7 linked regions of the Homo sapiens genome follow. The protein of the gene in region 7 interacts with the protein of the main gene of each other region in a biochemical or structural test. Each region holds a gene or a part of one and is shown on either strand. Other genes may lie near its edges. The genes, in order: MMP2, NID1, COCH, LAIR1, PRELP, PDGFA and COL1A1.

Evidence for each region.
Region 1: the proteins of COL1A1 (region 7) and MMP2 form a complex in vitro, tested with the Homo sapiens proteins (one study listed by BioGRID).
Region 2: the proteins of COL1A1 (region 7) and NID1 form a complex in vitro, tested with the Homo sapiens proteins (one study listed by BioGRID).
Region 3: the proteins of COL1A1 (region 7) and COCH interact in a biophysical measurement, tested with the Homo sapiens proteins (one study listed by IntAct).
Region 4: the proteins of COL1A1 (region 7) and LAIR1 form a complex in vitro, tested with the Homo sapiens proteins (one study listed by BioGRID).
Region 5: the proteins of COL1A1 (region 7) and PRELP form a complex in vitro, tested with the Homo sapiens proteins (one study listed by BioGRID).
Region 6: the proteins of COL1A1 (region 7) and PDGFA form a complex in vitro, tested with the Homo sapiens proteins (one study listed by BioGRID).

Annotation. Positions count from the first base shown.
Region 1 is NC_000016.10:55,485,698-55,489,197, forward strand, and holds part of MMP2 (72 kDa type IV collagenase isoform 1 preproprotein), read left to right. Parts: coding exon 1-80; intron 81-2,845; coding exon 2,846-3,019; intron 3,020-3,500.
Region 2 is NC_000001.11:236,044,591-236,048,090, forward strand, and holds part of NID1 (nidogen-1 precursor), read right to left. Parts: intron 1,094-3,500; coding exon 867-1,093; intron 1-866. UniProt on the Homo sapiens protein: Sulfated glycoprotein widely distributed in basement membranes and tightly associated with laminin. Also binds to collagen IV and perlecan. It probably has a role in cell-extracellular matrix interactions.
Region 3 is NC_000014.9:30,881,059-30,884,558, forward strand, and holds part of COCH (cochlin isoform b precursor), read left to right. Parts: intron 1-3,451; exon of another isoform or gene 3,452-3,494; coding exon 3,495-3,500. UniProt on the Homo sapiens protein: Plays a role in the control of cell shape and motility in the trabecular meshwork.
Region 4 is NC_000019.10:54,354,932-54,358,431, reverse strand, and holds part of LAIR1 (leukocyte-associated immunoglobulin-like receptor 1 isoform a precursor), read left to right. Parts: exon of another isoform or gene 1-96; intron 97-1,465; coding exon 1,466-1,504; intron 1,505-1,812; coding exon 1,813-1,941; intron 1,942-2,033; coding exon 2,034-2,076; intron 2,077-2,164; coding exon 2,165-2,202; intron 2,203-2,425; coding exon 2,426-2,478; intron 2,479-3,017; coding exon 3,018-3,164; 3' UTR 3,165-3,500. UniProt on the Homo sapiens protein: Functions as an inhibitory receptor that plays a constitutive negative regulatory role on cytolytic function of natural killer (NK) cells, B-cells and T-cells.
Region 5 is NC_000001.11:203,478,806-203,482,305, forward strand, and holds part of PRELP (prolargin precursor), read left to right. Parts: intron 1-3,500. UniProt on the Homo sapiens protein: May anchor basement membranes to the underlying connective tissue.
Region 6 is NC_000007.14:499,803-502,846, reverse strand, and holds part of PDGFA (platelet-derived growth factor subunit A isoform 2 preproprotein), read left to right. Parts: intron 1-1,604; coding exon 1,605-1,731; intron 1,732-2,347; coding exon of another isoform or gene 2,348-2,403; exon of another isoform or gene 2,404-2,416; intron 2,417-3,044.
Region 7 is NC_000017.11:50,198,832-50,202,782, reverse strand, and holds the start of COL1A1 (collagen alpha-1(I) chain preproprotein), read left to right. Parts: upstream 1-1,151; 5' UTR 1,152-1,269; coding exon 1,270-1,372; intron 1,373-2,835; coding exon 2,836-3,030; intron 3,031-3,192; coding exon 3,193-3,227; intron 3,228-3,329; coding exon 3,330-3,365; intron 3,366-3,455; coding exon 3,456-3,557; intron 3,558-3,951. UniProt on the Homo sapiens protein: Type I collagen is a member of group I collagen (fibrillar forming collagen).

The sequences.
Region 1 (3,500 bases), on a different chromosome or scaffold from region 7:
CCGCAGCGATGGCTTCCTCTGGTGCTCCACCACCTACAACTTTGAGAAGGATGGCAAGTACGGCTTCTGTCCCCATGAAGGTGAGCATCCACTCTAGTCCCCAAGACTTTCCACCCCAAGCCTCCAGCTTCCCGGGCTCCCCAGTGTGCTCTTCCCTCCACACTCTCCAGGACTGGCTGCCACTGCCAGTTAATGAGCATCCCTCCAACGTCCTTCACTCAGTTCCCCCCCATCCTGATCTGAGCCATTGCTGTTTCTCTCCCACCAGTACCATGATGAACGTAGTACTCTAATTAAATCAAGTTGATTTTTTTTAAGTTTCACCATTAGCAATCATTTAGGAAGTCACAGATTTGATTTGCTAATTATTTATTTCTAATATATATTGGAGTGAACTTAGAACTATTACAATGCCCAGTGGTTCTCTCTAGAACCAGTCTTTACACTTCAGTCAAGATTGATACTTCAAGGGCATGAGGAAAGGCTTGCTGGTAGCTGGAAACCTAGCAGTGTGATAGGGAGGCAGGACTCAGACCAGGGCTGGACTCAACCTGGTTTGCGTACTCCAACTGAGGAATTTCAGCTATTGCTCCTGCCTTGGTCCTGATGCTGCCTCTGCTAATGCGTGTGTGTGTGTGTGTGTGTGTGCCTGTGTGTGTGTGTGTGTGTGTGTGTGTGTGTGTGTGTGTGTGTCTGGGCACGGGGGCTATACTATCTGCCTCTCTTGGGCACTGTCTTTTTCTGCCTCCTGTCTAGCTTGTGTCTGCATCTCTGTGTCTTGATAAAGACTTTAGGCTTGACTCAGTATTTGTGTTTGTGTGCTTGTCAGTGCCTGAGATGCAACATTTCAGAGATTTTGAAGCCACATGGGGGAAATCTTTTAAAATGGGGTACAGATATTGACATACACACTCAATCCTTTTTAAAAATATCCTTGACACACTTAATAGTCATAAATCACAAAAAGACAATGTAACTTCATACTCTATGAAGTCATCATATTTGATAATTCTGCAGATTGAAAGCCCAGAAAACCTGGCGAAAATGGAAAAAAGTCTAAAAATTTTTAACACTATCTTCTTTCCCATGTCACAAAGACTCTATAGTCTACATAGACTAAAGACTGTCTTTTTGTCTGTAATTTTATGTCTGTGAATCTCCCTAACCCCACTGTAACTGAAAACTAAGCACCAACCATCTTGACAGAATGAAAGAAACAAAGAGCTAGTTAATTCCCTTCCTGTTTATGCTTTTACTACCAGAGCTAAACTTTATATTAAGTAAGAGTTTAAGCCATTCACCATTAATAAGTCAGACATTTTGAAATAAAAATATTTTTTGTATCTTGCGTTTCCCGGTAGGGATTACATGTGGCGTTAACCCTTCCCTGTGTCACCCCTCTGATAGGAACAGAAAGCTTTGGTGATAGTTAGATGTGGAAACAGCTGTATTTCATAAATTTGGGAAGGGTTATTCCCTGCATTGGACATTAGCCATTTACTTTGTGCTTAGCCAGATGCAAGTACGCACAACACGCACGTGTCTGGGTCTCGAGGCAGAGATTGTTGTTACTCAGCCCCTGCTGATGGCTGAGTCAGTGTCTGATTCTTGCCATCCTTGTCAGGGGAATTTGGGAGGAGACAGGGGCTTCCTGGGTGGTAGAAATGAGAGGTCAGAGGCAGGGGGCTGGCATTGGTCGAAGTTAACGCTTTGCCTTTCTCAACTCTGAGGCCACTAAGGTATCTGGACTCAGTCTTGCCTTTTCTCTAGGTGCCATTGTTTCTGGCATTGCAGGACAAGGTCTTTTGGTAGAGAGGGGAGTGGTGAGGATACAGGGCCTCGAGTTCTGTGGTGGGAGGCCAGGGACTGGGCTCCATTCCGGCCATGGTGGAGTTAACGGGGGCTGGTGAGGTCACCTCTGGCGCCGTTGTGCACAGATGGTCCTTGTTATGGACTTGTGGTTTTGCTGGTTGGCAATTCCAGAGACACCATTTTTTAGCTTTGGGTGGATGAGGGGAGGATGGGGAGAATCCAAGACAGACAGGCCAGGCTCTGAACCCCACTCCCTCCCCCAACTCTCCATTTATGGCCCCTGTCTTGAAGATGTCAAAGTAGGAGCCCAGAGTGTTTAGTAAAAGGGACCTGAAGGCACCACCTCCCTCTCCCTCCCTCCTCCTCTTCATTCTTTCTCTCCTTCCTACAGAGACTGCAACAAGGCCATCCAGGAAGGGGCCTGGGGTTGACAGGAGGTAAAGCAAGCTTTCTGTGTATGCGTGTGCACGCACACACACATATATGAGAGTGACAGACTAAGCAAGAGAGATTGAGATTAGTGTGTTTTGTAGTTTTTAGTTACAACCTTCATTCACTTCTTTCATTTCTGTGACCATGAGCAGTTTGAGAACCATCTTTGTCCTAGCCTTGATTTCTCCACCTATCAAATGGAGAGAGATTCTCGTGGTCCTGCCTGCCATGACTGATATATTCATGTCATACATCATTATTACATGAAATTTGCATGGTACAGGTGTGGACCAGGCAGAATGGACAGTGCCCTTGGGGCTGAGGCAGGGTTCTAGAAGCCCTTGCTGTGTGCCAGGTGTCAATCATTTTGTTGTTGGGTGGTCCACAAGGTCCCACGGGAGGGATTGGGATAACCAGGGAAGCAGGGGTTCTCTCTGGGAGCTCAGAGAAGCAGCTCCTTACCAACCAGTAGAGATGTTTTCTTAATATTTTAACAATGCATCAACTTCACTGGTGTGAACCGGCAGGTGGGCAGCCAGCCAGCCCTGTGCCCATGGAAGCATGTCTCATTCACATCCTTCCCTCTCTCCCCCACCCTTAGCCCTGTTCACCATGGGCGGCAACGCTGAAGGACAGCCCTGCAAGTTTCCATTCCGCTTCCAGGGCACATCCTATGACAGCTGCACCACTGAGGGCCGCACGGATGGCTACCGCTGGTGCGGCACCACTGAGGACTACGACCGCGACAAGAAGTATGGCTTCTGCCCTGAGACCGGTGGGTGCCACTCCCTCTCCCTCCCTCAGGGCCCAGCACCTGCTGTCTGACAAAAAAAAAACCCATAAGACTCCGAGTGCCCACCTCCTTTCCCCAAGACAGGGGTGCTAAGACATCTGTGCGAATGACATCCACACCAAGATGTCCGTGTAGCTAGTCAGGATACTTGTCACCTGGTATGGCCTGGGCACTGAAATCAGAACAGACATTGGGCATCAACAGTTGAATTGGTGACACTTAAATGTCAGGCCTGCTCAGGATCCTCTGACCGACCTGCATCCCTTTTCTCTCAGGCTCTCTGGCAGAGACTTCTCTCTCCTCCTCTCTGACCCTGCAATCTCTCTTCCCTGCCTTTCCTGGTCTGTATCTCCACCTTTTAGTCTGTTTTTTATTAAGAGCTCCGTGCTTTCCTCCCTGTCTCCTTCCTGCCCTCCTCTCTATCCCTCCCTCCTTTCCTTCTTCCCTTCCTCCAACAGGAATT
Region 2 (3,500 bases), on a different chromosome or scaffold from region 7:
TTACCAGCACATCACTAAGTGAAGGGCAGAGGAATTCAAGCTAGATTTGAAGATATAAAATTAAAAGGTGGTTTTAGGGGATTCACTCTTGGTTTTTAAAGAATAATGGGAGAGGAAAGGTTTTAATCTTCAAAATCCAATTTGGGCTTTTCCCTCTTTTGTCAAATTCTACAACATAACCTGAGAGCACCATTTCTGTTGTAAGAATATTCCCCCTAGTCAATGTGAAGGAAAAGGTTTTCTCAGCCTTGAGATCAAAGGAGATAGGTTTGAATAACCCTTATTTCTAACAGTGTTTATAGACAAAATGGTAAAAACTGTCTTAAGGCCGGGCGCGGCACTTCATGCCTGTAATCCCAGCACTTTGGGAGGCTGAGGTGGGCAGATCACCCGAGGGCAGGAGTTCAAGACCAGCCTGGCCAACATGGTGAAACCCCGTCTCTACTAAAAATACAAGAATTAGCTGGGCATGGTGGCACACACCTGTAATCCCAGCTACTTGGGAAGCTGAGGCGAGAGAATCACTTGAACCTGGGAGGCAGAGGTTGCAGTGAGTCGAGATTGTGCCATTGCACTCCAGCCTTCCAGCTTGGGCAACAGAGTAAGGCTCTGTCTCAAAAAAAAAAAAAAAAAAAAAAAAAAGAACTATTTTAAATGAGGATGATATCTAAAAAATAGGATATCTGTTCATTCTAAAAATACATTTCCTTAAGTTCATCAGAAAAAGAGTATCTCATAATATAAAAACTATATGCAAAACTTAAATCCATAGGAACATTTTTAGGTAATGATCTATAATACACATTACATTATCCACATTAAAAAATATTAAGAGGAGAATCTACTGAAGAACAAAGAAAGCATACTTGGCCAAATTTTCAACTGATTCCCTGTCATTAGCAAATATGTTATAAGCTCCGTTGCTCTTCCATAAGAATCCCACTGAACCTTGACTGAATGCAACCACGGCAGGAACTTGGTTGTTTTCCTTCTTTGAGAATGTCGTATGGAACTGCAGACCATCCTCAGGATAAAGGAAAATGGCATAGGAGCTGGAATCAGAGGAGGCTAGAACAGCCTGGAACGTGTTTCTCTGTGAAGATGAGTTAAAATTCAGTTACTCGGAAAAATATCGATAGATTTTAAAATGTGTTATTCGCCAGACTATCTATAAAGCGTACAGTGCTATAGAGCGATGGCAATATTCTCACCTTATTCTAAAAGAAGGACTTTTGTAGCAAGAACCTAGGATTCTGGGATAGTTCCACTGAAATATCCCTAAGGCTATGTCAACATGACATTTTCTGATTAATTCATAAATATCTTCTGCATAACTGTGGCCCTAAGGTTAACCAAAAATTATACAGATGGTACCTCCAGATGGTGGCCTAAAATCTCACGCAGTTTAGGAAATTCTTACCCAAAGACTTTGTTTCCATGGCTGTTAACATATTCAACCGCATTCATCGTTTAACAAACATTTATTGAACCCAAGCACCGTACAGTAGAAAAAACAAAACAAAACATGAGATTTGGGAGAAAACAGACCTGGATCCAAATCTTTGCTCTACTCATTATTATGTGACTTGGGCGTGATACTTGAGTTCCCTAAGCCTCGATGTTTGCATCTGTAAAATGGAGATAAAACCACCTCCTTCACAGAAATGAGGAAGACTACATGAGGTCACGTATGAAAGAGCAGGCACATGCCGGGCGCGGTGGCTCATGCCTGTAATCCCAGCACTTTGGGAAGGCTGACATGTGAAGAAAACATTGCAAAACCTGAGGTTGGATTCTGTAATCGAAACATTTGCAAAGCGCTGCAGGAGCCGTAAGAGGAAGCGTCCCATGCCAGGAGCGGTGGGAGTGCATCCCATGCCAGGAGGCTGTGGTTGGTCAAGGCCTCACGGGAGGGCCCAGTCTGAATGAACAAGCAGGAGGAAGCTGCCACCTGTAGGGGGGTCAGGGAGAGGACGTCCCAAACAGAGAGGACAGCCTGTGCAAGATACTGCGGATAAAAAAAAAAGAGCAAGGGCAAGGTCAGGGAATTACATGTAATTTGGTATAGCGGCTGCAAAGGGTATGCGGAGGTGGAACAGATTAGGCCCAAGAGGCAAGCAAGGGATCCATACCAATGGGTTAGGCATTTATCACCCAAGTGAAAGGGAGGCAGCTGAGACACTTAACATTTAAGCTGTTTTCAAGTTTGGCACTCAGACAGATAACAGTTGGCAAGCAAAATGTGTCATGCAGGCCCCTAACAGACTTTCCCAAAGTGTGCTCTGTGGGATGTAATGCATCTTTTTTGGAGCGGGGGAAGGGAAGAGGTATGGTCACAGGTTTGGAGACTGCTCAGTTAAACAATATTCGGCAAGGCTGGAATGGTGGCTCACGCCCTTAGTCCCAGCTACCTGGGAGGCTGAGGCAGGAGAATCACTTGAACCCAGGAGGTGGAGATTGCAATGAGCCAAGATGGCACCACTGCACTCCAGCCTGGGTGACAGAGCAAGACTCTGTCTCAAAACAAAAACAAAAACAAAAACAAAAAAAGTAGTATTAGGCAAGTTGCAAGTTTCCTGACTGCAGGACTTTTCAGAGTGAACAGGGTGAATCACCAAGAGGGAGATATAGTTTTAGCATTTCCCAAACTAGAAGGCCTTTTCCTCAAGGTGTATCTTGTAGGACTGGTGTTTTGTGGTACACACTTTAGGAACCACCAGCCTGAAATACCTCCCATTTATATGAAGTGCTTTGGGACCCTTCAAGTTTCTTTCTTCCTCATTTTCCTATAAAGGTGAAGTTATGGTAGAGAGAAATTATTTTTCCAAGGGAAAATCGAGGCCTGTCCTAAAAAGTCACTTCAGGTCTAACAACGAGTTCCTGACCTACTCAAAGACCCTGCTTCCTTCAAGGGCAAGTCCGTGCTCTACAGCCTGGTCCTTCCAGCCGTCCCTGATGACTGCGCCCACGGAGAGGCCAACCCTGGGTTATGACAATACTTGGGTTTTGAACCACTCACATGGTCCAAATGATTCTTGTCTCCCCAACTAGAGTCTGGGCTTTACCTTTCTATCTTTGCATCCCTCAGGAGTACTTTGTTATTTTAACCTATCGTTTCATATTAATAATTTCTCTAGTCAGAAACTATCCTTCCAGCCGGGCTCGGTGGCACACACCTGTAATCCCAGCACTTTGGGAGGCTGAGGTGGGTGGATCATTTGAGGTCAGCAGTTGGAGACCAGCCTGGCCAATGTGGTGAAACCCCATCTCTACTAAAAATACAAAAATTAGCCAGTGTGGTGGCCCATGCCTGTAATCCCAGCTACTCGGGAGGCTGAGGCACAATAATTGCTTGAACCTGGGAGGTGGAGGCTGCAGAGAGCTGAGATTGTGCCACTGTACTCCAGCCTGGGCAACAGAGCAAGACTCCATCTCAAAAAAAAAAAAAAAAAAAAAAAAAAGGCCGGGCATGGTGGCTCACGCCTGTAATCCCAGCACTT
Region 3 (3,500 bases), on a different chromosome or scaffold from region 7:
ACAAAAATTAGCCAGATGTGGTGGCATGCACCTGTAATCCTAGCTACTTGGGAGGCTGAGGCAGGAGAATCACTTGGACTCGGGAGGCAGAGGTTACAATGAGCCGAGATTGCACCACTGCACTCCAGCCTGGGCAACAGTGAGACTATGTCTCAAAAAAAAAAAAAAAAAAGAAAAAAATCAAATGAGAGGAGATTTGAATGAGTCTTGAATGATGACAAATGATCAGTTCTTTTAGTGGGTACATGTCAGTTCAGTATAAACATTTGAGTTATGGACACACTGGGTTCCCAAACTGTAAGTTCAGGATCTAAGACTGCCTGGGCAGACTGAGTAGATCTGAGTGCCTCCTTTTTGGAATAAAAGAATTTAGAAAACTGTGTGCTATCTATATAAGAACCAGAAGGTAGACTGGAGAGTCCTGTTGCTTACACAAGTCACCTCTGCTTATCTACTCTGCTCAATTCCTAATTTCTCTCTTCTGAAGGAAGAAGCAGTGATATGTCTATTCCACCTCCCTATTCTGTTATTCTTTTTAGCTCTTTCCATATTCTCTTGGTTGGTGATCTGAAGCACGACCTTTCTATTTTATTCATTTAAAAATATTTATTAATTGCTGGCCAGGTGCGGTGGCTCACGCCTGTAATCCCAGCACTTTGGGAGGCCGAGGCGGATGGATCACGGGGTCAGGAGATTGAGACCATCCTGGCTAACACGGGGAAACCCCGTCTCTACTAAAAATACAAAAAAAAAAAATTAGCCGGGCGTGGTGGCAGGCGCCTGTAGTCCCAGCTACTCGGGAGGCTGAGGCAGGAGAATGGCGTGAACCCAGGAGGTGGAGCTTGCAGTGAGCCAAGATCGTGCCACTGCACTCCAGCCTGGGCAACAGAGCAAGACTCTGTTTCAAAAAATAAAAATAAAAATAAATAAATAAATAAATATTTATTTATTAATTGCTTTTAGAAATAGAATATGCTCATTATAGAAAGCTTGAAAATACATAGAGCACAAAAAAAGAAATGCTCTAAATCATATGCCCTAGAGATAATCACTATAAAATGGTTTTTTTTTTTTTTTTTTTTTTTTTTTGAGACGGAGTTTTGCTCTGTCACCGAGGCTGGAATGCAATGGCACGATCTTTGTTCACTACAACCTCTGCCTCCTGGATTTAAGTGATTCTCCTGCCTCAGCCTCCTGAGTAGCTGGGATCACAGGTGTGCACTACTACGCCTGGCTAATTTTTGTATTTTTAGTAGAGACAAGGTTTCACCATGTTGGCCAGCCTGGTCTCGAGCTCCTGACCTCAGGTGATCCACCTGCCTCGGACTCCCAAAGTGCTAGGATTACAGGTGTGAGCTACCACGCCTGGCCCCTTCAGTATTTTAAGGAAATATTTGACTGTATTATTTTTTAAAAACTCAGACTATTAAAAATGCCCTGCATCCTGTTTTTTTCATCCTTTAGTATTTTTAGCATTTTCTCATATCACAAATATTCATCAAAAATATTTCATAATATTCCGCTGCATGATTAGTCATTCTTATTATTTCTTCACTACATTACACACTACACTGTGATGAACATCCTTATATCATCTTTGTGCCCATCTCTGATTATTTCATCAGGTTAGATTTCTAAAAGTGAGGTTCTGACTTAAAGCCTCTGATATAAATAGTGAAATTGAGCCATGCACAGTGGCTCATGCCTGTAGTGCCAGCTGCTCAGGAGGCTGAGGTGTGAGGATCTCTCAAGCCCAGGAGTTCAAAGCTGCAGTGAGCTATGATGGCACCACTCTACTCCAGCCTGGACAACAGAGAAAGACCCCATCTCTAAAAAAACAAATAAATAGCGAAATTGCTTCCTAGAAAGGTGAAGTAGTTTAAACTACTATCAGCAGTGTGTAAGGTTGTATAAACAGTGCTATTACAAATATTAATTTCCATTTCATTTCTGTTATTTTTTACAAGTGGCTCTGCTCTTAGATTAGATAGAATTTTTTTGGCATGAGAAGAAAATTTAACTGTTTTAACATAATTTAACCATTTGTCTCTCACCCTTAAAAAAAATGTGTTCCTTGTTTCATTGACTTATGGTATCACATTTATACCTGAGTTTGAGCAAGTCTATTTCTTTGATTCATATGCTAATCCTTACATATTTTTTTCTACGCTGCTTTGATTATCACAGTTTTATTGCACATTTTAACATCCCATGAGGCAAATTCCCCTGCAGTACTTTTTGTCTTGTACTTTTTTCTGACTACTTTGACCCAATTCTTTTTGAAGATGAATTCTTCATTACCTTGTAGACTCATACAAAGTTTTGTAGTTTTTCTGTTTTAGAAAGACCATTAGAATAGGTAAACCATGTCAAGTTTATATGTATGTAAGTCAAAGAACAGAATATATCAAGGATACAAAAATGAGACTAATTTCATAAGTCATAATCTGGATAGTTGAAAAGTGACCACAAGTGAAAAGGTTTTCAACCCATGAAATCTGATTTTATGACCCAATATTCCATCAGGTATGTATGCAGAAATACAGTCAGTGTTCTACTTCTCCCTCAAAAAATCTTGAATAAAATGGCTACTGATAATGCTAAGATCTTAAATTTTGCACTAGGAAATACTGACTCATCTAGAAACTAAACACAACAGATTGTGCTGTGGTTGTTTATACTCAAAACGGTCTCTGCTGAACACAGAGTAGTTATATAAAAGTGAGCTGAAATTCCTTTAATATTAAATATAGGAAATGAGATCTCAAAACTCTTACAATACACATAATTTTAAGGTGCACAAATGTCATTGTCATTATAAGAAAAACTCAATATTGTAACTTTATAATTCATTTCACCTTTGTCCCTTTAAAAAAATGTTGACGGTCACATCAATGAAATTGTTTCTCCTGAACAGAGAGCTCTGAGTTAATAGATCCACACTACTTAGAGCCTCTGGGGTCCCACACTGGAACAGACCCTAGTCTCATACCCAGCCACTTCCTCATTTAGTTTAGCTACCTGGTGCCCAACTCTGCGGACTTCTGTTAAACCCGAGGCTCTGAGCCAAGCCCGATTTCAAGTTCTCCGTATAGTTTAGGCATGGACTTTGCAGCCAGACAACTTGAACTTAAAATGCAGCTGTGTTTCATCAGGCAAACTCCCTAAATGCTCTGAGACTCAGTTTCTTCATTTACATAATTGGGATAATTCCAACCTTATAGAGCTATGATGAAATGAGGTTTTACATGTGTTATGCTTTTGGCTTATTACCCAGAATATAATAAATCCTCAATATGGCAATTATTTGTTACACCTCTGAAATATCTCCAATAATTCAAGTAAGGATGCAATGCCTCAGTTGACTATGTACTATGGAATTAAGAAAGAAACTTGTGTGTTGTCTGGTTTTAAAACTGTTTTTTAAGGCATGTAATGTTGCTTATTTTACCTTTTTAATTCTCCCTGAATAACATTTTCTTTCTTCCACTCAGTGAACA
Region 4 (3,500 bases), on a different chromosome or scaffold from region 7:
TTATATATGTTTACATCATAATATATATATATATTATATATATATTATATATATAAGGAAGATAATTATATAATAAAACATGTTAGTGTATCACTACATATGACTATAGTGTATATTATATATTATATGAAAGATATATTTACAATATATAGTATAATAAATTTCAAGTGTTATAGTTAATAAATAAATATAGGTATTAATGTAAATATATTATCTATTATGTATACATTATGTATAACTATAATAGAAAAAATATTTTATATTTAATCATAGGTTTATATCAAATATAAATTATACATTATATATTATAGTGAATATATGTAACATATATTATAAGTTATAAATCATATACAATTAACATTATATACATTAAATTATATGTATATGTCAAGATTACATAATTAAAAATATATTTGTTATATATTATACATTTGCATAATACATGATACATATAACTATAAATAATATAAAAACTGTAATATTGCACATATATAATACATATGTAATTTTAAATGGTGGCAAATGTTATGAAGACCAAGCCCAGGAAGTCATGGTGTAGAATAACGGGTGGTGTCCTGGACCTTAGACCGTGGACGAGGCAGGAGGGAAGGACATTCCAAGAGAGAATGTCTGCCTTTCTTGAAGGATATTGAAGATGCTGCCTCAGCCCCGGGGGAGGGGAGGGACCGCTGTTCCTGGAAGAGGGACGCTTGGCTCGGACCCTGGGTTTGGGGGAGCCCCTCAGGACCCCATTTAGCCACCTGGGAATTGGGTAGTGGCGTGCACTGTGCAGAGGAGGGTGAAGGTTGGAGGAGATGACGGGCGGGCCTGCAATGCGCTGCGTAGGGAGCCTGGGCGGTGCCCCACACACTCGCCCGCTAGCTGCAGGGCTTCAGGAAAGAGGAGCACATCGGGACTTGGATTCTTCCCACAGGAGGGCGGGTTACATCCCCGTCAGAGGGTTGCCGGGAGGGCAGATAAAATCAGACATGAGGATTCTTGCCCTCTGGTGGGAACCCAGAAGGAGGTCAGGGAGGGAAGGTCTCCCTTCCTCTTGTTGCGGGTGGTTGGTCTCTGCCTAGATCCGCAGAGGGCAGAAATTAGCGATGTCTACTACAGCTTCACGCCCAGGAAACGCGCTGTATCTGCACCGTCCAGTAGGGATGGCATCAGGCCCGTGGGGTCACTGAGTCCTGGAGGTGCAGACGGTGCAGCCAGCTTCTCATGCCATTCAACTTTGGATAAATTTAAATATCAATAGCTATGTGTGACTCTCATGCTGGACAGTAGATGTAGAAAGTTTCCATCATCACAGAAGACTCTGCTGGTCGGTGCTGGTCTAGAGGGAGCAGTCAGGGTCCTGGGGAGTGAAGGGAGATCCCCACAGTGGATGTGGGAGGACTCAGAGCCTTCTCTGTCCAGCTCAGGACTCTAACTCCTCCTCCTTCTGATTCCTCCCTCCCAGGACCCACGCAGAGGCCGTCGGACAACAGTCACAATGAGCGTGAGTGATGGGGGCCGTGGAGCATGAAGCTGGTGTGTGCCTCTTGGGGAAGGAGAAAGAGGTCAGGCTTTGGGGTTGATCAGATTCCTGCTCTGCCAATGGCAGTCTGTGTCCCTGTGCAGAGGACTCCAGCACTCAGGACCCCGGTGGTGGAAGAAGGGGATAACGATCCCTGTACTGCAGGACTATTATTTACCTAAGATATTTTATATATTAGTAAGTCTATGAAACGCACGTGACGTGTGTGTGGTATACAGTAGGTGCTCAATAAATGCACACTGCTGAAATCCTGTTTCTGTCTTTCTTAGATGCACCTGCTTCCCAAGGCCTGAAAGCTGAGCATCTGTATATTCTCATCGGGGTCTCAGTGGTCTTCCTCTTCTGTCTCCTCCTCCTGGTCCTCTTCTGCCTCCATCGCCAGAATCAGATAAAGCAGGGTAGGTCTCAGGGGCAGGGTGGGGTGACCTGGGAAGCTGTCAGGAGAGGCTAGGAAGAAGGTCTCCTTAATTCACACCCCGACTGTCCTTAGGGCCCCCCAGAAGCAAGGACGAGGAGCAGAAGCCACAGCAGAGGTGAGGCCCCTGGGAATGACTCCTGGACCTCCACCCAGTCCTCGGCCGCCAGGCTGCCCCTGAGGTTCACTTTTATTTTTCCTCTTAGGCCTGACCTGGCTGTTGATGTTCTAGAGAGGACAGCAGGTAAAGGGGGAGGAGGAGGGACAGGCCTGGGATGGGGAAGTGGGGACTTGGTGCCAATCCAGATGCAATGTGGGGGGTGGGGGGAAGAATCTTTGGGAACATTCTAGAAGGTCGTATTATACATTGGGTGCAGGATGTCATCGGAAGCTGGGGGTGGGGGTCTCAGGCAGATTTGCCTTGCGACATCCTCCCCAGAAAACTGACCATGTATTTTCTCCCCAAGACAAGGCCACAGTCAATGGACTTCCTGAGAAGGACAGAGAGACGGACACCTCGGTGAGCCTTCCTACTAGTTATTAAAGTACCCCAAATTTAGCAGCTTAAAAAAATCTCAGTTCCTTGGGTTAGGAATTCAGGAGTGGCTCAGCTGGGCGGTTCCGGCTCACGGCCTGTCCTGAGGTTGCTGTCGAGAGGTCGCCCAGGGCTGTGTGCATCCGAAGGCTCCCGTGGGCTGGAGGATCCACGTCCAAGACGCTCACTTCCCCGGCTGTGGGCAGGAAACCTCTGTTCCTCTCACAGGGGCCTCTCCACACAGCCGGCTTCCCCCAGAGGGAGGGATCCAAGGATGGGTGGCAGGGAGGGGACAGAAGCACCATGTCTTTTGGCTCAGCTTGGAAGTCAGGAGTCTTCCCTTCTGCCTTGTTCATTGTCACGTAAACCAACCCCAATACCCTGTGGGAGGGCTCTTCACACGGATGCAATTTAGGAGAGGGTCCTCAGGGCCCATGGAGATGGCCGCCACAGCCCTCCCTCCCCACAGCCCCTCGTCTCACCCTCCACCAGGCACTCCCTCACCCTGGGTCTCTCCCTCTTAGGCCCTGGCTGCAGGGAGTTCCCAGGAGGTGACGTATGCTCAGCTGGACCACTGGGCCCTCACACAGAGGACAGCCCGGGCTGTGTCCCCACAGTCCACAAAGCCCATGGCCGAGTCCATCACGTATGCAGCCGTTGCCAGACACTGACCCCATACCCACCTGGCCTCTGCACCTGAGGGTAGAAAGTCACTCTAGGAAAAGCCTGAAGCAGCCATTTGGAAGGCTTCCTGTTGGATTCCTCTTCATCTAGAAAGCCAGCCAGGCAGCTGTCCTGGAGACAAGAGCTGGAGACTGGAGGTTTCTAACCAGCATCCAGAAGGTTCGTTAGCCAGGTGGTCCCTTCTACAATCGAGCAGCTCCTTGGACAGACTGTTTCTCAGTTATTTCCAGAGACCCAGCTACAGTTCCCTGGCTGTTTCTAGAGACCCAGCTTTATTCACCTGACTGTTTCCAGAGACCCAGCTAAAGTCACCTGCCTGTTCT
Region 5 (3,500 bases), on a different chromosome or scaffold from region 7:
CCATAAGGCTCCTTTGTTATCTCAGGACCACATCAGCCCTAATGGGGGCCTTGAAAGGGCCTCAGGCTCACTCCTCTACTAACTCTGCTCATAAATTGGCAAAGACTGCTTGATTCTCCCTGCTTCCAACACCCTTCTGGACTACAGGAAGAGATACAGAGAGCAGGATGGCTTTCAGACACCTAGGTTGAGAACAGAAAGAAGGGAAAAAAGAGAGAGGGGTGTTCCGACATTCACCGGCACAGCGCTAGGTCAGAAGCAGCCCCATTCTCCACTGCAGGGTAGCTCTGGGTCAAGGCATGGAGGCTTAGGGGTGACCAATTAGACAGGAGATCTGACAAGTAAGAAGAATGCCAGTTCAGAGTGCGGCGTAACCCTGCTGCTAGCCCTGCCTAGCCCTGGGAGACAAACCCAACCTCATTCCCAGCCCAACCTCAACCTCTCCATACAAAGCCAATTAGCCTTAAATAGCTGCTCCTAATGACTTGACCAACCCATCAGGACTTCCACCCAACCCTGCCCTGAGCAGAAACATTCCACCACTCCTGGGTTTTAACATTAAATTAATGAGAGAGATAGGGAAGGGGGCTATCTCACTTTAAAAATCAAGGAGTCCTTGGGGCGCTGTGGCTCATGCCTGTAATCCCAGCACTTTGGGAGACTGAGGAGGACAGATCACTTGAGCTCAGGGGTTGGAGACCAGCCTGGGCAACATGGTAAAACCCCATCTCTACAAAAAAGACAAAAATTAGCCAGCTGTGGTAGCACATGCCTATAGTACTAGCTGCTCAGGACGCTGAGATGGAAGGATCACCTGAGCCCAGGGAGGTTAAGGCTGCAGTGAGCTGTGATTGCACTACTGCACTCTAGCCTGGTCAACAAAGGGAGACCCTGTATCACCAAAAAAAAAAAAAAAAAAAAAAAAAAAAAATCAAGGAGTCTCTCTAGAGAATCTGCTGTTTATAAACAAATAAATGAGTAAGTAAGCCTCTGCCACTTGCAGAGATTTTGCACTTTATAACATGCCTTCAAATGCATGATCTCATTTGATCCTCACACAGATGAGGAGCCCGGGTTGGAGAGTCAGAGCCAGGAGTCAAGCCCAGATCCACAATAGTTGGAATTGAAATTAGAATTTAAAACTCTCTTAGAGGCTGGGTGCAGTGGCTCACACCTGTAATCTCAGCAATTTGAAAGGCCGAGGTGGGAGGATTGCTTGAGCTTAGGAGTTCAAGACCAGCCTGAGCAATACAGTGAGACCCCCATCTCATTTTTGTTTAAAGTGAAAAAAGAAAAAAAAATTAAGATTCTCTTAGGAAACGTTCTTTAATGTGGAGAGTGAATGTTGGGTTGGGCAAAGCAATTGCCTTTCTCTTCCGTGAAGCAGCAGCTTTTCCAGAACTGATGGTGGAGAGCAGAACTGCATGCAGTTGGCTGTTGTAGGTGGTCAACAAACCTTCACTGATTGAGCAATGAGCAGAGCCCAGTAGAAAGCTGTGGGTGGAGAAGTGCACTTGTGAAAGCATAAGAAAAATTTAAAAACACACACATGGACCCATCCTAAGGAATCTTATGATTGGACAGAAGTTTCTAGAAGGCAGGAGCATAGAGTGTGGGTCTGAGGCTTTGTAGGAGGGACTATGACTACCCATGGAGTCCAGGTACCCTCAGTCTGTCACACAGATTCTGGTTTCAGAGACCTAGGACATCACGGAGCACTGCCAGAGAGAATGGCTGTGCTGTCAGCTGTCAGAACTTTTCATCCTGCCTCATGGCAAAGCTCCGGCAGGAAGGGGCATCACCCCATGAGAAAAGCCTTAGAAATGAATGCTATTTCCTTAAGAGAGAAGCATCCCTGCACTTGGAATGGTTCTGATTCAGCCCTGGGGCTGAGGGAAGGGGAGGAGAGCAGGCTCAGCTTCCCCACATAACTTGCTCCTGGGAGCATTTCCTGGGGAACCTCCTGTTGGCTCTGGGAGCAGCTTGGCTAGGCCCAGAGGTTTGGAATGTAAACGGGTCAGAGGACTAGTGAAAAGATAAGTTCCCAAAGGGTCTGGTGCTGCACATGGGGATGAGGAAGGCCTGTGTTTACTGTGGATGAGAAGGCGCGCACAGCCAGCCTGCTGGGTGGAGCTGTGAGTAACCTGCCTGTTCCTCTCACCCCTGACAATGAAGACCAGGGCTGCCCTGGCACTGAGCCAAGGAAACCCCGCCCCGCCCAGCACAGGTCACAGCCACAGTGCCTCACTGCTTTTGCTGGAAGCCCTGGGCAAATTGGTGCCCAGTCCCTGGCATATGCTTTCGGTGACAAAGGCAATGAAGGGATATAGAAAAACTCCCGCCAGTGCTGGGAGCCTCCTTGGGACAGGGCTTCTCACAGTATGAAAGATTTCTAGATCATTTCTAGGCTTCTGGGTGATTAGAAAATAAATTTTTTTTTTTAAATCAGGGTCACAAAAATTGAGGCTTTTAGAAATGTTTGTTTTAGAATACCAATGCTTTAACTACCCCCTTAATTTATATGCAAGATGACTGTTCTGTTTTCCAGAAAATTACAGAACTTACACAATGTTAATTCATAGTTCACCAATTACAAGTGAAGTGGGGTTCAGCCAACAAGACTCAAGCTTAAAGTTTTGCAATTAATGCCTTCTCTTTTTAACCCTTGCAATGTATCTCTGACAATGTTATATCCTTAACGGGAGATCAAGCCAAAAACCTAACTGCAAGGTCCTTTGTGATAGGAGGCCAGGGAAAATGGCCTTCCAGACCTCCTTGGAGAGGCCTGCCTTGGAAGAGACCACCTTAGAGGGAGGTGGAGAAAGACAGTCTCTGCCTTCCTTCCCTTCCGCCTTCCTTCTTTCCTTCCAATACTCAGTGTACTGCGTATGGGCTCATATACGCACACAGAGGATAAGTGAGTGAGTTTGCTTATGTGCATGGGACCTGAAGAGGTGTGTGTGTGAGTGTGCAGACTGGATCTGCTGTTAAACAGCATCTTGGCCTTGGCGAGCCACTTCTTCCTTCCAGTCCTCAGTTTTTGCAAATGGTGGGGTCTGGAGTTGATTGGTGGATTTCAAGCCATTTTTAGCAAAGAAACGTGTCCCCTGCCCCTCAACAAATGAATGCTTCGGCTAAACCTCAATATATATAATAGGTTTTTTTAAAGAGAGCTGCTGAGGTTGGCACAGGGATGGGTTGAGGGTACCCCAGGGCCATCTCCTCAGTCTCCTCCCCACAGGGGTATGTCACAGAAATGAAAGCAGAGTTGGAAAACCACTAGGTTATAGGATCTTTAAGGACCTTTCTGGATTTAACCAGGACGCTAAGGTTCATACATCCTAACATCCCTCTCATGAAGACACTGATGATTTTCTCATGCTGTGAATGGGAGGACTGAGGGCCAGAGTGGTTAAGGGTCTTCTCTGACAAGCCCCAGGACTCCTGACTCGGAGTCCAGTGTGCTTTCTTTCTTTCTTTTTTTTTTTTTGAGAAAGAGT
Region 6 (3,044 bases), on a different chromosome or scaffold from region 7:
AGTTGTGTTCCCGTGACAGGGCCTATATGTGCATTATGTGTGTGTGTGTGTGTGTGTGTGTGTGTGTGTGTGTGTGTGATTTCTTGCCTCTCTTGTTGAATGCCTGAAGCTCCCCTCTCTGGCCTGGACTGGGCCATTGTCTGCCTGCAGCTCCCCGGGGAAGGGGCTGTGGAGGCAGGACCCCCATGTTGTGGTTTTGTGCCTGGAGAATTGAGGGCAGGCGTGGCTCGCAGACAGGCAAAGTCCAGTCCGAAGAGGGGAACCCAGCTGAGGTCTGGTTCGCTTTTGAGCTGCCTGTGCCTGATAGCCACGGCCTGCTGGCCTGTGCTCCTCCTGGATCATCTTGTGTAGCCTCGGTGATGGCCCAGGATCCCTGGCCCTGGTTTCCGAGGTCAGGCCTCTCCGAGCCCAAGGAGAGCCTCGGACCTGGGGGAGCCATGAGGGGACCCTGGGTATGGGTCTGCTGGCCCTGCTGCCTGGGGCCGGCGGGGAGGTGGGGCCCTCATCAGGCCAGCAGCTGGGATTATCATCTGGACGCTCAAGTCCACAGCAACCTTGGGCTAGGATACAGCCACGAACCCCCCATTCCTAGGCCATGGCTTTAAATTTTTTTTTAATATTAATAGAGACAGGGTCTTGGTGTATTGCCCAGGCTGGAGTGCAGTGGTGTGATACCAGCTCACTGCAGCCTCAAACTCCTGGGCTCAAGCGATCCTCCTACCTCAGCCTCCCAAGTAGGCTGGGACTACAGGTGCCACCATGGCTTGCTAATTTTTAAATTGTTTTTAGAGGCAGGGTCTTACTATGTTGCCCAGGCTGGTCTTGAACCCCTGGAGTTAAGTGATCCTCCCGCCTTGGCCTTCCAAAGTGCTGGGATTACAGGCGTGAGCCACCATGCTCAGCCTGGCTTTTAAAATGTATTTAAAAACAACGTGATCATTTGAAAACATTTCCCAGCTGCACATCCACACACAAGCAAACACTTTCCCTGGCCACCTGCACCCCAGAACTCCCAAACTTCCACACCTTAGCAGTGTGCATCCTTCAGCCCCCCCAGGCACACGTGAACCTTTGGGTTTATTTTAAACAAAAATAGGATGAGTCTGCTAAATACCATGCTCCAACACCAGGCGCGGCGGCTCTCACTTGAAGTTCCAGCACTTTGGGAGGCTGAGGCAGGAGGATCACTTGAGTCCAGGAGTTCAACATCAACCTCGGCAACATAGCGAGATCTCATCTCTTCCACACAAAAAAAATATTTAAAATTAGCTGGGCATGGTGGCCTGTGCTTACAGGTGGGAGGCTGAGGTGGAAGGATCACTTGAGCCCAAGAGCTTGAGGCTGCAGAGGCTATGATTGGCCTAGGTGACAGGGTGAGACCCTACTCAGAAAAAACTAAAACACACACACACAAAACTGCACTGCAGCTTGTAGGTTTTTCACCTGGTACTGCTACACTCCCCACCACAAGGTAGTGTTTCTGGGAGGAGGTCAGGGGTCAGGCTGCTCTCTCCTCCCTCTCAGCCTGTCCCCGGCTCCCAGCACGTCGTGATGTCCGAAGCTCCATGCAGGCATTCATGGCCGGGCTCTGTTCTCTCTGGCAGGTGGCCAAGGTGGAATACGTCAGGAAGAAGCCAAAATTAAAAGAAGTCCAGGTGAGGTTAGAGGAGCATTTGGAGTGCGCCTGCGCGACCACAAGCCTGAATCCGGATTATCGGGAAGAGGACACGGGTGAGTGGCTGCCTTCGTCGGCATCGGTGTTGGAGAACAGGTCTTCAGAGCCTTGCTTTTGGGGTGTTAGGTGGCCCCCTTGAGCGCAACGCTTACTGCTGTGAGCATCTGGGCTGCTGTTGAAGGATTCGTTGCCCTGCTCCCGGGCCAGATGCCTGCGGGGGAGACGGATCCCACACCTGCAGGTGTCCGGTGGGGAGGGTGGCCCAAGCTGCGGCACTGGCAGGAGAGGAGATTCAGGTCTCACTGAGAGGGGCTGGGAGTGCATAAGACACCCAATTCATTAGTGGGCTGCGGGGCTGAGCTGAGAAGAATCTGCAGAAGGGCCTCCTGCCAGGGTGGGCGGGAGGAGCAGGTTCGAGGACTGCAGTTGCCCTGGCTGGCTGGGGTCTCTCCTTCACCCCGCCACGCGGACTCCACCCAGGAGCAGAATGGCTTCTGTGCCCTGCTATGGCTGGGCCCTGGGAGCATGAGGGGACTCAGAAGTTTCTCGGTGCCAGGGTGCTGGCCTTCTCTTCTGGAAAGATAAACAAATGCCGTAGGTATTTGTTGCTTCAGTTCTTCACCCCGACGGCCGTCCCTCGGCCCACTCACCGCCCTGCCCTTTTGTTAACAGGAAGGCCTAGGGAGTCAGGTAAAAAACGGAAAAGAAAAAGGTTAAAACCCACCTAAAGCAGCCAACCAGGTAGGACTGTCTGCCGGACACACTGAGTCCTGCAGGGCGGGGAGGTGCAACTGACTGATCACACCAGCAAATCACGCTTCCTGTCTCGCCGGGTGCGGCGGGGATGTGGCCCTGATTGGCCTTGATGGTGTCTGCTGGGCTTGGGTCTCCTTGCTCCCCGTCCGCTCCTGCCTCGCAGAACGCCCTGGCCCGTGGCTCACTCCCGCTTGGGAGCCTGCCTCCAGCTTTGTCCTTCTCTTTGTCGTTGATTGGGGATGCAGGAGCATTGCACATGAATGGAACAGGTTGGGCGACCTGAGCAGCGGTGGGGCAGCTCTGAGCGCCTGGCCACTCTGGGATCACCCACCCCATTTGACAGATGAAAAAACTGAGGCTTAACTGAGATTACAGATAAGGACTGTTGGAGGCTGAATATATCTGGAAATCCTTTATAAACGTGCAGGGCTGTTGGCTACTGTGTTGGAAATTGCATTTGGCTGCTAGTAACACCAGACAGCACAGGGATTGAGATAAGATCGAGCTTCATGACTTTCATCTAAGGGTGGGATTGCAGAGCAGGGAGGGTAGTCTTGAGGTATCATCAGTGTCCGCCTTCTGTCTGGCTAGTGGCATCCATCTGCAGTTGCCT
Region 7 (3,951 bases):
ATCCCATACATCCCCAACACTGAGTCCAGGTACAACTGGAGAAGGGGCTTTATGCAGCTCCCAGAAAGACACCCCTTTAGCTAAGTGCCCTCCCTCCACCCAGGTTCTCTCTGGTTTGACTGTGCTGGGAAGGAGGGTCTCTAAGCAGCCCCTGGCCACAGCCATGGCAAACAAAACTCTTCTCTAAGTCACCAATGATCACAGGCCTCCCACTAAAAATACTTCCCAACTCTGGGGTGGAAGAGTTTGGGGGATGAATTTTTAGGGGATTGCAAGCCCCAATCCCCACCTCTGTGTCCCTAGAATCCCCCACCCCTACCTTGGCTGCTCCATCACCCAACCACCAAAGCTTTCTTCTGCAGAGGCCACCTAGTCATGTTTCTCACCCTGCACCTCAGCCTCCCCACTCCATCTCTCAATCATGCCTAGGGTTTGGAGGAAGGCATTTGATTCTGTTCTGGAGCACAGCAGAAGAATTGACATCCTCAAAATTAAAACTCCCTTGCCTGCACCCCTCCCTCAGATATCTGATTCTTAATGTCTAGAAAGGAATCTGTAAATTGTTCCCCAAATATTCCTAAGCTCCATCCCCTAGCCACACCAGAAGACACCCCCAAACAGGCACATCTTTTTAATTCCCAGCTTCCTCTGTTTTGGAGAGGTCCTCAGCATGCCTCTTTATGCCCCTCCCTTAGCTCTTGCCAGGATATCAGAGGGTGACTGGGGCACAGCCAGGAGGACCCCCTCCCCAACACCCCCAACCCTTCCACCTTTGGAAGTCTCCCCACCCAGCTCCCCAGTTCCCCAGTTCCACTTCTTCTAGATTGGAGGTCCCAGGAAGAGAGCAGAGGGGCACCCCTACCCACTGGTTAGCCCACGCCATTCTGAGGACCCAGCTGCACCCCTACCACAGCACCTCTGGCCCAGGCTGGGCTGGGGGGCTGGGGAGGCAGAGCTGCGAAGAGGGGAGATGTGGGGTGGACTCCCTTCCCTCCTCCTCCCCCTCTCCATTCCAACTCCCAAATTGGGGGCCGGGCCAGGCAGCTCTGATTGGCTGGGGCACGGGCGGCCGGCTCCCCCTCTCCGAGGGGCAGGGTTCCTCCCTGCTCTCCATCAGGACAGTATAAAAGGGGCCCGGGCCAGTCGTCGGAGCAGACGGGAGTTTCTCCTCGGGGTCGGAGCAGGAGGCACGCGGAGTGTGAGGCCACGCATGAGCGGACGCTAACCCCCTCCCCAGCCACAAAGAGTCTACATGTCTAGGGTCTAGACATGTTCAGCTTTGTGGACCTCCGGCTCCTGCTCCTCTTAGCGGCCACCGCCCTCCTGACGCACGGCCAAGAGGAAGGCCAAGTCGAGGGCCAAGACGAAGACAGTAAGTCCCAAACTTTTGGGAGTGCAAGGATACTCTATATCGCGCCTTGCGCTTGGTCCCGGGGGCCGCGGCTTAAAACGAGACGTGGATGATCCGGAGACTCGGGAATGGAAGGGAGATGATGAGGGCTCTTCCTCGGCGCCCTGAGACAGGAGGGAGCTCACCCTGGGGCGAGGTTGGGGTTGAACGCGCCCCGGGAGCGGGAGGTGAGGGTGGAGCGCGGCGTGAGTTGGTGCAAGAGAGAATCCCGAGCGCGCAACCGGGGAAGTGGGGATCTGGGTGCAGAGTGAGGAAAGCACGTCGAAGATGGGATGGGGGCGCCGAGCGGGGCATTTGAAGCCCAAGATGTAGAAGCAATCAGGAAGGCCGTGGGATGATTCATAAGGAAAGATTGCCCTCTCTGCGGGCTAGAGTGTTGCTGGGGCCGTGGGGGTGCTGGGCAGCCGCGGAGGGGGTGCGGAGCGTGGGCGGGTGGAGGATGAGAAACTTTGGCGCGGACTCGGCGGGGCGGGGTCCTTGCGCCCCCTGCTGACCGATGCTGAGCACTGCGTCTCCCGGTCCAACGCTTACTGGGGCAGGAGCCGGAGCGGGAAGACCCGGGTTATTGCTGGGTGCGGACCCCCACCTCTAGATCTGGAAAGTAAAGCCAGGGATGGGGCAGCCCAAGCCTCTTAAAGAGGTAGTCGGGCCGGTGAGGTCGGCCCCGCCCCGGCCCCATTGCTTAGCGTTGCCCGACACCTAGTGGCCGTCTGGGGAGCCGCTAGCGCGGTGGGAGTGGTTAGCTAACTTCTGGACTATTTGCGGACTTTTTGGTTCTTTGGCTAAAAGTGACCTGGAGGCATTGGCTGGCTTTGGGGGACTGGGGATGGCCCCGAGAGCGGGCTTTTAAGATGTCTAGGTGCTGGAGGTTAGGGTGTCTCCTAATTTTGAGGTACATTTCAAGTCTTGGGGGGGCCTCCCTTCCAATCAGCCGCTCCCATTCTCCTAGCCCCGCCCCCGCCACCCCACCTGCCCAGGGAATGGGGGCGGGATGAGGGCTGGACCTCCCTTCTCTCCTCCCTCGCCCTCCTCCTGTCTCTACCACGCAAGCCACTCCCCACGAGCCTGCCCTCCCGATGGGGCCCCTCCTATTCTCCCCCCGCCCTCCCCCTCTCACCCTGTGGTTTTTATTTCACTTGGCTTCAGCGCCAATGGGCTGAGGTTGGAGTTGGAAGCCACCGCGGACTAAAGCTTTGTTTAAATTCCTGAGAACTGGAAAGAGTTACAGCCTCCCTGGCCAGGCGCCTCGGCGCTGTCACCCGCGCTGATGAGGAGCAGGCGAGCTTTTAAGGATTTGAGGAAAGAAGAACGGGGGGAGGGGCGGGAAGTGAAAAATCCAAGTGTGCCTCTTAGACCCGGGGGAAAGGTGGTTAAGCTGGGGGTTGCAGTCACTACTGACAACGCCCCTCTTCCGCCTGTCCCAGTCCCACCAATCACCTGCGTACAGAACGGCCTCAGGTACCATGACCGAGACGTGTGGAAACCCGAGCCCTGCCGGATCTGCGTCTGCGACAACGGCAAGGTGTTGTGCGATGACGTGATCTGTGACGAGACCAAGAACTGCCCCGGCGCCGAAGTCCCCGAGGGCGAGTGCTGTCCCGTCTGCCCCGACGGCTCAGGTGCGGCTGCGCTCGGGGCCTGGGGCCTGGGGCCTGGGGCCTGGGGCCTGGGGCTGGGGCTGGGGGTGGTCGGCGCTCGCTGGCCCTCCGTGCTGGAGGCCTCTGCCGACGGGAGCAGCATTAGCAAACCTTGGCTCTAACGCGCGTCTCTTCGTCCCCTAGAGTCACCCACCGACCAAGAAACCACCGGCGTCGAGGTAATCTCCTGCCCTCGAATTTTGCCCCTGCGCGGCCCGTGACTCCTCACAGTCCTCCCTTCTCTAACCTGGCCTCTTGTTTCTTCTCCCCCAATCCCACAGGGACCCAAGGGAGACACTGGCCCCCGAGGCCCAAGGGTAAGCGTTGCACTCTGGGCTGTGGGGGGCTGCAGGTGGGCATGGCTCTCGGCCCCACGCTCACCCCGGCCCCGCCCTCTCCCCCTGCAGGGACCCGCAGGCCCCCCTGGCCGAGATGGCATCCCTGGACAGCCTGGACTTCCCGGACCCCCCGGACCCCCCGGACCTCCCGGACCCCCTGGCCTCGGAGGAGTAAGTGGAGAGGCCTTGTGTGTCCACTCTCCCCTGTTTTGTTTTTGTTTTTTGGCAGATGACATAATTTTATACTTTGAAATAATTTCAAACTTACAGAAAAGTTGCAAGAATCCTACAGGAAACTCTCACATACCCTTCACAGTTTGTGACATGTGCTTTATTAGTCTCTGTTTATGTATATGTATCTTTTTTTTTCTGAACTGTTTGAGCAAGTTGCTAACATCAGGCTCTTTTGCGCCTAAATACTTAGGTGTGTTTTTCCTAAAAACAAGAGCATTCTCTTAACTGACCTACACAATGATTAAATTCACTCTCTAATGTGCAGTCCGTATTCAAAGTTCACCGATGTCCCGATAATGTCCTTTATAGATTCCACCCCCCACCACCCCAA